2 separate regions of the Homo sapiens genome follow, and region 2 is linked to region 1. Evidence: fine-mapped expression QTL. A gene starts in region 1. The other region holds a variant in brackets. All regions are shown on one strand. Distances are from middle to middle.

Region 1 (5,371 bases):
TTTCTCCCTGCCACAGAGGGTAGGCAGGACCACCTTGGCCACTGTGTGCCTAGTGCCAGTCCCCTCTGCTGAAGGAGAAGATGCATGCATAGTTGGCAGGTGGTCCCTGGAGCCCTGGATAGGGGCATTCAAGGAGTGCCCAGGAGGCCCCTGGGGAATAGGGATTGGAGGGGGGCAGCAGGCAGGAGGCCTACAGCCTTTCCTTGGGGAAGGAATGAGGGGACTGATGAGAGAACCCTGAAATCCACATCCCAGGCAGACAGGCAGCTTCAGCCCCCCAGCCTGCTGGTCTTTAGGAAGCCTGGCACAGGGCTGCACACTCCCATTAGAGCTCATTTCAGCCCCTGTGGATGGGGGGCTCCACGGGACCTAGAGGCCTCCCCAAGTCCCTCCCGACAGGGGGCTGAGTGGTCACTGGGGGCTGAGCTTCAGTTGAGTACTTCCTGAGAACCCTCTGGGTCCAGATGAAGCCAGGCTTCTCAGCCAGGCTCTGGAGCCCAAGGGCCTGGGTTCCGGCCCCTGTGCTGCCATTTTCCTGCTAGGCAACTGTGGCCCAATCATGGCGTCCCAGGGAGCCTTAGTGAGCATGAGGCTGTGGGTCAGGCTTGGCACATCGCAGGCCCTTGATAAATGGGCACTGCTGCTAGGAACGCTGCTGTGAGAGTCTCCTAGGGAACATGGCACGTTTGCAGGGCTTCATGGGAGCCTCAGGACGTTCCCAGTCCACAGTGCCCCTTCCCCTCGCCATCCAAAAACACATACTGGGAGCCAGAGACGCCTCACACACAGCTCTGTTTGCAGTGTCGGAAGGAGAAGCAAGGAAAGTTTTTCAGAGAAAGAATACCCAGGGGTGGGCGGGAGTGCGCCTAGCATTGAGAACACCTTAAAAAAGACCGTCCTGGCCGGGCGCAGTGGCTCATGCCTGAAACCCCAGCACTTTGGGAGGCTGAGGCGGGTGGATCACCTGAGGTCAGCAGTTCGAGACCAGCCTGACCAATATGGTGAAACCCCGTCTCTACTAAAAAACACAAAAATTAGCCGGGCATGGTGGCATGTGCCTGTAGTCCCAGCTACTCTAGAGGCTGAGACAGGAGAATTGCTTGAACCCAGGAGGTGGAGGTTGCAGTGAGCCAAGATCGCACCACTGCACTCCAGCCTGGGTGACAGACCGAGACTCCATCTCAAAACAAACAAACAAAAGACCGTCCTGGTGTCAGCTTTTCAGACTTCTGGGTTTTGTTGTTGTGTTGCTGAGTGCCTTGTTATTTACTCCTTGCCTTGTTCCCCGAAGGAATTGAAGCAGCTCACAAAACCCAGAAGCCTGAAAAGTCAAAAACCCAGAAGTTTGGCCAGATGTGGTGGCTCACGCCTGTAATCCTCGCACTTTTGGAGGCTGAGGAGGGAGGATTGCTTAAGCCAGGAGTTCAAGACCAGCCTGGGCAACATAGTGAGATTCCACCTCTACAAAAAATAAAAATAAATCAGCTGGATGTCGTAGTACACACCTGCAGTCCCAGCTATTTGAGAGACTGAGGCAAGGAGGATCACTTGAACCCAGGAGGTTGAGGATGCAGTGAGCTAAGATCACACCACTGCACTCCAGCTTGGGTGACAGAGCAAGACCTTGTCTCAAACAACAAAACCCAGAAGTCTGAAAAGTTACAACGTGAAAGAGGACATCAAGTGAAGGGAAAAATCATGGTAGGAAAGAAAGATGAAGCCAGCAGTCCCCACTCACTGAGCTAGAAGACCTGGAACACTAGACAGAGGTGGTTCTGAGCTTCCTAGTGGCTGAGGAGAGGAGTGAAAGCGGACCCCAGCCCCCGATCTAGCATGGGAGGATGAAAGCACAGCCATTGTTCTGGAGACACTTTCTGGTTGTCATTATACAGGCTCCCTGGAGGATGTGCCTCCTCCCCCTTCAGGATTTAGCTCCTCTACTTCCCCTGGGCTGGTGTGGGCACATTGTCTGTGCTTTGACAGTCCCTAGATCCCATGTGTTCTAGAACCTTCTCTCCCAAAGCAGAACTTTTTTTTTTTTTCCTGTTTTCTGTTTTTTAAATCTATCTCAGCCTCCTGACAAGCAATAAGATTTGGAATATTTGTTGAGGGGATAAATAAATGAACTCCTTAGTCAGTGCAGAGATCTGTGCATTGCGGCCATTTCTTGAGCATTGCCGCCATTTCTTGAGCATTGCCATGTGCAGGTCAGAGACGTGGGAGCCCCCACACAGCGGGGAGGAGAGCAGAGGCGGAGGATGGGGGGGCTGGGCTAACCCAGGCTTTCCAAGCTGTGATGGGGCAGGAGCTTCTCCACTAGCTCGAGGGAGGGGGAACTTGGGCTCTGGGCGCCTGTTTTGGAGGTTGCATCCCTTTGAGGGGCGCTACGGGTTGCAACTCACGCAGGAAAGGTGACCTTAGTAGTGATGGAGGTGGAGTGGGCCAATTTCTGGATCTTTATTTAGTCACCTCCAGCCTTGCTGGGACAGGGATCTGGGGCTAAGCTGCTGTGGTCTCGGCACCCTCTGTCCCCACTTCCCCTCGAGGACGGCTGTTTGAATATTGTCTAGTGTGGGCCATTTACCCCCGTGGGCAGGAGGAAGGTAGGAGGGACTTCAAAGGAGACTTCAAGGGCCCCCCCACTGCCCTTCTAACCTTGCAGATTCCCCTCTCGGGCCTGTTTCCTCTTCTCTCAACCAGCGATGCCAGGCTGAGGCTGTAGGTTCGAGAATCACGTAGGTAATGGGCCTGGCACATAGTAGGCTCTCAAGAAAAGGTTGGAGCCTCTTGAGGAGTCTGCCTGTGATGGATGCGGAGCGCAGACCCAGCGCAGTGCGGCGATTCGCCCAAGGTCACACAGCCGCCCCCCCCAATTCGGACCCCGGGCGGCCTGACTCCGGGGGCCGGGGCTTGTCGGGAGCCAGCGTGGGGGCGAGCAGTGTTTGGAAGAGCGGCCGCGGCAGTGGGTGGGAAGGGGCTTCTATTTTGGAGCGGGTGAGAGGAGCGGGACACGCGGAGGAGGTAAGGAAGGGGTAGGCCCTCTCCGGGATCTCTGTCCCCCAGTCACCTTCCTGCGACCCTTCCTGGGAGGGGCGTCCTGGGCGGTGGGGGAAGGTGGGAGGGGCGGGCGGTTACCTCATCGCCGCCTCCGGGAGGCCCCGCTCGCTCGCGCCGGCGGCTGGGGCGGCGACTCCAGGCGCGGAAGCGAGAGAAGGATAGAGGCACAGAGGCTCCGGGAGGCAGCGCTGCCCCCCGCGCCCCGCACCGCTGCGGGACCCGCGCCGCGAGAGGGGCGGACTTCGGCGCCTCGCGCGTCCGCCGGCGCCTGGGTTGGCGCTGCGGGGCGGAGGCGGTGTCTGAGCGCCGCTCCGGCTCTGCTCTCTCTCGAGCTTCGGCACCCGCCCGAGCCGCTCGCGCGCCCGCCACCTGTCTGCCCACTCGGCTGTCTGTCTGCCCTCCCGCCGCCAGCTCCTGCCTCGGGCCTGCCCTCTCCGGTCTCGGTGCTCCGAGGGGCGACGAGAAGCGCGACGGGGCCGTGGCGCACCGGGCAGGGCGCGCGGGGCGCACGGCCTGGGGGCGCACGGTGCGGCGCCGGCCCATGAGGCTTTCCAGCGCGGGGAGCGACAGCGCCGGCCGGCCATGGGGGGTAGCCTGCGGGTGGCCGTTCTAGGCGCCCCGGGCGTGGGCAAGACGGCCATCATCCGCCAGTTCCTGTTCGGTGACTACCCCGAGCGCCACCGGCCCACGGACGGGCCGCGCCTCTACCGACCCGCGGTGCTGCTCGACGGCGCCGTCTACGACTTGAGCATCCGCGACGGCGACGTCGCTGGCCCCGGCTCGAGCCCCGGGGGTCCGGAGGTAGCGGCTCGAGGAGCGGGCAGGGGCGTGTGACAGTGTGAGGGGTGTGCGTGCTCGGTGCACACGTGCGTGTCCGCGTGGAGGCCTCGGGCGCCTGGCTGTGCTCCGGGATGGAGGGATGTGTGTGCGTCCTGGGATACTTGCGTTTCAGCCCTTCCCGCCGACCTGGAGACGCCCAAGCCCAGGCTGGAGGCCGGGCGATTTTGCCCAGGGGCGTTCCCTTGCTCCTGTGAGCGCCTCCACCTTTGCCTGCCTCGGCTGGGGGTGTGGAGCAGCTCTTGGTGGTGCATAACGGTGCCTTCCCGAGAGTGTGGCGTTTTGTGTTTGGGGCCTTGAGCAGAGCTACAATGGGAGAGACTGGGGTCAGGAGCAGGGGTGTACTTTCTACGGGGGCTGGTGGAGGGGTTCATTCTCTGCCCTATCATTTTTGTCCCCTGGAGCGAAGACTCGTTTAGTAATTTGTGCAAAGTAAAGGACAGACCTCCGACCCTAGAGCAGTGAAGAGGAAAGAGCAGGCAGGATTAAGCAGGGCTTCCTGGAGGGAGTGGCATTTGAGCTGAACCTGGAAGACCGAGTGAAGTTCTGAGTAAAGGAAGTGGCAAAAACATACCAGGTGGAAAGACCAGCAGGTGCTTACGCTACGGTCATAAACGGTTACAGCTGACAATCTGGGGGCGTGGTGGACCACGGGACTCGGGCCAAGGGCTTTGGAATTAGTCTTAGAGGCCGTGGTAAGCACCGAGAGCATCTAGGGAGGAGAGCGGCCTGAGCCGAGTTGGGGAAAGCTGAAAAGAGGAAGATTCGGGGTAAACAGAGGGGAGACCAAGGATGAAGGAGGCTGGCTGACAGGCTCCAGGCACGATTTGGAAAATTTTACCCTGGTGGTCATGAGGAGACGGCCCGGAAAGCTTGGGGGAGGGGCACAGAGGTCTGTATGGGGGTGATGTTGGCCTGAGGATTAGCGTCCAGGCCCCTGCAGAGGGTTCGAGAGCGGAAGAGTGGAAAGGAGGCTTCCGCAAACCCTGGCCTCCTGTCCCCAGGAGTGGCCAGACGCTAAGGACTGGAGCTTGCAGGACACGGACGCCTTCGTGCTCGTCTACGACATCTGCAGCCCGGACAGTTTCGACTACGTGAAGGCCCTGCGGCAGCGCATCGCGGAGACCAGGTAGGGGCCCGGCAGTTCTGGCGGTGGGGAGCTAGGACAGGTCTGGCAGGGCCTTTGCCTGAGGAGAGTGTGTAGGGTCTCCCAACGTCGTGGGCCGGGTCTTAGGCCTTCGCCCGTGGGAAGGTCTTAAGCTGTATGTGCTCTTTGGCCCACATGGGCCTGGGGTTTCGTTGGGGCGGCGGGGGGGGCGGTGTCTCTGGCCGTAGGAAGGGAATGCGCCTGCGTGTGTATACCCACTGGGGGAATTCTCCGGCCGTGGGGTCCCCGCGTCTCTCATCTCCATTCGGCCCCCAGGCCGGCGGGCGCGCCCGAAGCGCCCATCCTCGTGGTAGGCAACAAGCGGGACAG
Region 2 (5,349 bases), 27 kb after region 1:
TTGACAGCAAGAATATCACACTGGTCTATAAGGCTGCTGAACTCTACGCATGCATTTACCTCTGTACCATTAATTTACAAAGCACGATATGAAGCACAACTAGAATTCAAAATTACCTAGATCAAGATCTGGTCCTTCATCCATGGGTCCTGCCAACCAGGAAAGATCATATAAAATATTATTAGTGCACGTCTTGCAAGCTACAAACCTTACAAACACACATAGCTATCTACTATACCACCATTTGATGGGGATTCATTAAACTCAAAATGACCCGCACTGCTAAAATGGAGCAGTGTCTCTTTAACATTTGTGAAAGGTTTGCTAGGGTTTGCTTTTTTCCTTTGCTGGTTTGCTTCTAAACCATTAACCAAATACACTCTCAATGCTTATGTGCCAAATCAGTGTTAAATTTAAGTCAAAATTTTTCCTCTAAATAAACCAAATTTAAAAATTTATTCTCCCCCATATTACAGAAGCAGTTACTCAATACTTCAAGTTACCCTTTGTTTTGTAACCATAGGTTAACCTTATTAACCCCTAAGACAATGCCGGCAGTACCCATTAGTCTCTTTTGTATAGATCATTTTTAAACCACTTATGAAACTAATAAAAAAATTATAGTTTTCTAAAAACTGACTGCATTTTTTTTTAAACACTATCTATGGTAATACTCAAAAACTTACCACCAGGCTTATTGAAGCCACCTCGCTCTCCAGCGCTGCTGGGGGGATAAACGAAGAAATGAAGGCCTTTCCCTTTAAAAGCCAGTACCGCTCTGAGCCTTGGGGGGGCTCGTGGGGAAGAAGGGCACTGGCTAAACACATCTCCAAACAATGCATCTCTCTCATCTTGTCACTATGCCTTTCTTCAGGGCAGCTTGCTCAAATTTCCTCAATATACAACCTTGCTTGTCTGATTGTACACACCAGTGTGGTTGGTTCCTTTCATTTCGGGGGCTGGTATTAATAGTGCAATACTTGGCAAATTAGCAAGAAAAAATAGATCCCAAACACCCACCCCGTCAGGTGAAAAACCAGAAGAGCTTGGTATAGAGGGGAGGAGCAAGTGGGGGTTAACTGCTGTGATAAACCTTTCCATGTTCATAAAGGTGCACCCTCAACCTCTCCCAAGGGAGAGCCAAATGAGGCCCAGGGTTTCCTAACAAGTCACAGTATAATAAAAGCAGGAGACAACCACATTAAATTCCTACAACACACATCAGAGGACGCATCCAGCCAATCTTCAGCATAAAGCCATACATCTCAGGGCACGAATAGATTTAACAATCGCTGTGAAAGGAGAATTTACAACAAATACCAAGGCTCAACGGACTGGGGGTGCAACTTTATAGACATATCAGTTAGAATAATGACTATGGCCATGTAAAATTACTTAAAGAGGGGAGAGGGAAATATGAATTGGACTTTTTGGGTTAGATTTTGTTTTCTTTAAAATTAAATAAAGGCAGCTCCCCAGTGGGAGGCCCTGAGTTTTTTCTAACCAGTATTGCACCTTTAATACCTGAATATACAATTTCAAGCTGTTGCATGCAGCTTTGTTTCCTTTTTAAAAGTACACACCATAAAATGTTCTCTCTCTTTAAACACAAAAGTTTACACTTTAATGTTACACAATTCTAGAGTATTATACCTCCTCTGGTTCATTACCAAACAACAAGTATGCAGTTACCAAAGTTACAGAAGGATTCCATTTATACAATGAATACATTTTGTTAAAAATATTCTATGTATATTTTTCCTCTCCATATGGACACCGTGTCTAGTCCCACTTTTCATTATGCTGCCGGCTGAGTACTGAGTACGGGTACTTTTTAAGTATTGAAGTGTATACAAGGCTCTCACTTTGTAACCTGTAGCATATAAATGCGACAAAGCATGTTAAAAAGTTTCCACGTTTAACAGCCAATGAAAATATCAAAATACTGAGGCAATGAAAAAGGGCATGTTAACAACATTGAGTGCCTTACCTGTACAAGACACTGAAAACCATCACCACACCACAATAAAAAGGGGGGCAACGAGGGAAATGCCCGTCTATCCCCACAGGATCCGACAGACTGCTTCACAGTCTGTTGAAAAACCTATGGGGAAAGCCATGGTCTCTTCTATGGCTGCAAGAGAGACTTCTCATCCAGAAAGAGGGGCCCCCTCTACTAGCAAAGTCTAGCACAATTAGTAGGATTATAACTTCTGGAGTATTTAAATAAACTTGAAATTGTATTTGCAATTTAAAAATACTAGGAATTCTAGGTGATTTGAGACGTGATGATAGTACTTTCAAGTGTCTATGTCTATTTTAAAACATCCAAAAAGAAGTGAAACCTTTATAATAGAGTATTTTCCAAATCAGAAGATTGATTTTACTTCATACCGAATCATTAAATTTTTGCCTGTTGTCAAATGACTTTCTTCCAATAAAGATTTCACTAAAGACTTTCTTAAAGTTATGCAGAATATGCAAAATAGTACTGTCTTTCAGTAGTGAAGAGTATTTGCT[A/T]ATATGGAAGTTAAAAATCAACTTTAATTTTGAAGTTCATTCTGTTTTTTAAAAAATGCTATTTAATTTTTCCTTGAATAGTGGCACACCGTATCAAATGTAAATATCTAACATTCTGCATAACTTTTTTTTTTCTTTACCAGTTTATATAGGGACAGAACACACACAGAACTAAGCCTTCTGGATTATGTTAACCACCAATATTATAGCTCACCTTCATCAAAGTACAGACACCAGATAGGGAAAAGGGGATGGGAGAAGGGAGGGGAAGGGCAGGCAGAGGCAGCAGGGTTATGTCATTGATCTAAACAAAGTTTTCTAAACCAGATTGTGCCATCAATCAAAATGGTCAAACCGATTTAGACTTTCAACATCTCCAGTAGGAAGTGAGCCCATAATTATATACATTACTCTGCAAAATGCTATTGGATTTTTCTTTGCTCCATCCAAACTCTATGTAATCAGGTGCACCTCAGGCTATAGTTTAAGGATTATGGGACCAAAATCTTCATATGTTCAACGATTCTGAGTACAAACAGAAGTTGGGGACAAACACTGTGGAAAACAGCTGCATTCCTTTTCTGCAGTATATACACCAGGTATTTCAAGACAACCATTCAAAGGCAGTTAGTTAACAACTTAGGGTCATTAGAAGGGTTGTGTGTGTTCCATCCCAAATCTACTACCCACAGAGGCTTCTCACCTCTGGAAACCATGAAGGGAACTGAAAGCTCTGGTTTCAAAACCATTCTTTGTTCTCCCCGACCCAACGAAGTATACTGGCAGGGAAAGAAAATAAACTGCCACTTAATATATGCCACAAAGATGACATTTCCATGTTTTAGAAGATGGCTTGAGCTCAACAGATTGTCCATGGAAATGCAGAAATTAATTTCTTATGTCTTTCAGTCCCTTCTTTCCACTGAAAATCCTATGGATGAAACAAAATTAGGTAAAAGGAGAAAAGGTTTGCTCTTACCCCATTCCACCGCGTCCTCCTCCCCGCCCACCTCTGCTCATGCCTCCACGATCAAATCCCCCTCTTCCCCTGCCCCGGTTATCAGGGCCACTCATGCTCCGGTTCTCTCCTGGTCCGGAAAATCCTCCAGACTCCTGCCCATAAACACCCATGCTACTGGGGTGGTCCTGTCGGAATGAACCTGAGGAAAGAGTCACATCTGTAAGCCATGGACCAGCATTTACACCACTGCCTGATGTACTTTCTCCTGGAATCACAAAATCCTCAATTCCAAGGCACTAACCAAGGCACCATCTTCTTTACATCACGATAAAGCATCCTTAATAGGTAGGCTCTTTTAAGTTCAACAAAACTGCTGGATCATCACAGCTGAAATAACCTTATATAGTTAGCCTATAATAAACCTCTTCTAAATAACAACAACAAAAAAAGCCCTCTGGCTAACATATAGTTTATAGGGTTCTATATCCTAAGATGTCTCCAAAAGCAGCTTCTTTTGAGCTAAACTCAAGAAATGAAAACAGAGCCAGGTTTCTTAGGGCTTTAGCACACTGCTAGGGGCTGAGCTCCATAAATCAACACTACTCCTTTGAGTTGTTGAGAAATCCCCGTGGATAGAATGTAATTTAAAAAGAGCAATGATCCTAAATTCTGAAGATAATTATGTGTTTTGGTTACCTCTCTCCATACAGAAGAACTGCAAATATTCTGTGAGGAGGATTATTTTTCCCCCTTTCCTTTTCTATTTTCTTAAAGAATCTTTATTTATCTTTAAAAAGACAGGGTCTCACTATGTTGCCCAGGGTGGTCTCAAACTCCTGGTCTCAAGTGATCCTCCTGCCTTGGCCTCCCCCAAAGTGCTGGGATTACAGGTGTGAGCCACCATGCCTGGCCATTTTTCCCCTTAATGGATATAAACAAACAGCAACAAAAAAACATAGCTTTTACTTGACTATCAAAATCATAGTGGCCTGCAATAGCTGCCTCCCCACTTTACATTAATGACTGATAGGGAGGCCAAAAACGATGTTGAATTTACTCACTGCATACAACTTCCCCAAAGACAGCAGGGCTAGCAGTCTAAAACATTTTTTCTGATCAATTAGTATCTCTTTTCTTTTTTGCCAAGGCATACTAAAAACAAATTGGAAAAAAGCACTGAAATCTTCACTGGGGCATCCAAGATGTTAGCTGGAATGCCATGCCCTAAAGATGTGTCCTGGATTCCAAAAGCAAACAATGGCAAAGAGTATTCCCCCTGTTCAAAAACTCCAAACGTGGCTGGGCGCAGTGGCTCATGACTGTAATCCCAACACTCTGGGTGGCTGAGGCGGGAGGATCACCTGAGGTCAGGAGTTCGAGACCAGCCTGACCAACATGGTGAAACCCCGTCTCTACGAAAAATACAAAAAATAGCTGGGCATAGTGGCAGGCGCCTATCATCTCAGCTACTCGGGAGGCTGGGGCAGGAGAATTGCTTGAACCAGGAGGCGGAGGCTGCAGTGAGCTGAGATGGCACCACTGTACTCCAGCCTCAGCCCCAAGAGTGAAACTCCATCTCAAAAGAAAAACAAACCAACAAAAAAAATCAACCCCACAAAAAAACTCTAAACACATTCATTCTTATTTGGTTTTCTCTCTTAGCAACTCACTCTGCTGCCCGTAGCTGCTGCTCTGTTGGCTATATTGACTTGGAGCTTGGCTGTAGGATCCAGTTTGGGGTGGGTAACTAGTGGGAGGCTGCTGCCCATAGCTGCTTTGTTGACCATAGCTACTCTGCTGTCCATAGCTGCTCGGTTGCCCATAGGTGTTCTGCTGAGAGTAACTGCTCTGATCATAACTAGTCGGCT

Evidence for each region. PIP is the estimated chance that this variant, and not a neighbour inherited with it, causes the effect. A credible set is the group of variants that fine-mapping cannot tell apart.
Region 2: its variant is the best candidate, but not a certain one, in a credible set for the expression of RASL10A in whole blood (TOPMed, PIP 0.69).

What each region holds. Positions count from the first base shown.
Region 1 is chr22:29,313,515-29,318,885 of GRCh38, reverse strand. RASL10A (RAS like family 10 member A) reads left to right here and starts at 3,189. Exons shown (of 3, transcript NM_006477.5): 1 at 3,189-3,858; 2 at 4,899-5,023; 3 at 5,318-5,371. The coding sequence starts at 3,640. RefSeq lists enhancers at 3,193-3,997, 3,998-4,802.
Region 2 is chr22:29,286,937-29,292,285 of GRCh38, reverse strand. It overlaps EWSR1 (EWS RNA binding protein 1), which reads right to left. Exons shown (of 17, transcript NM_005243.4): 7 at 5,152-5,349; 8 at 3,500-3,680; 9 at 687-724; 10 at 117-149. Among named protein-coding and RNA genes, the nearest start is that of GAS2L1, 17 kb to the left of the region's middle. The variant A/T (reference allele first, on the strand shown) is at 2,521.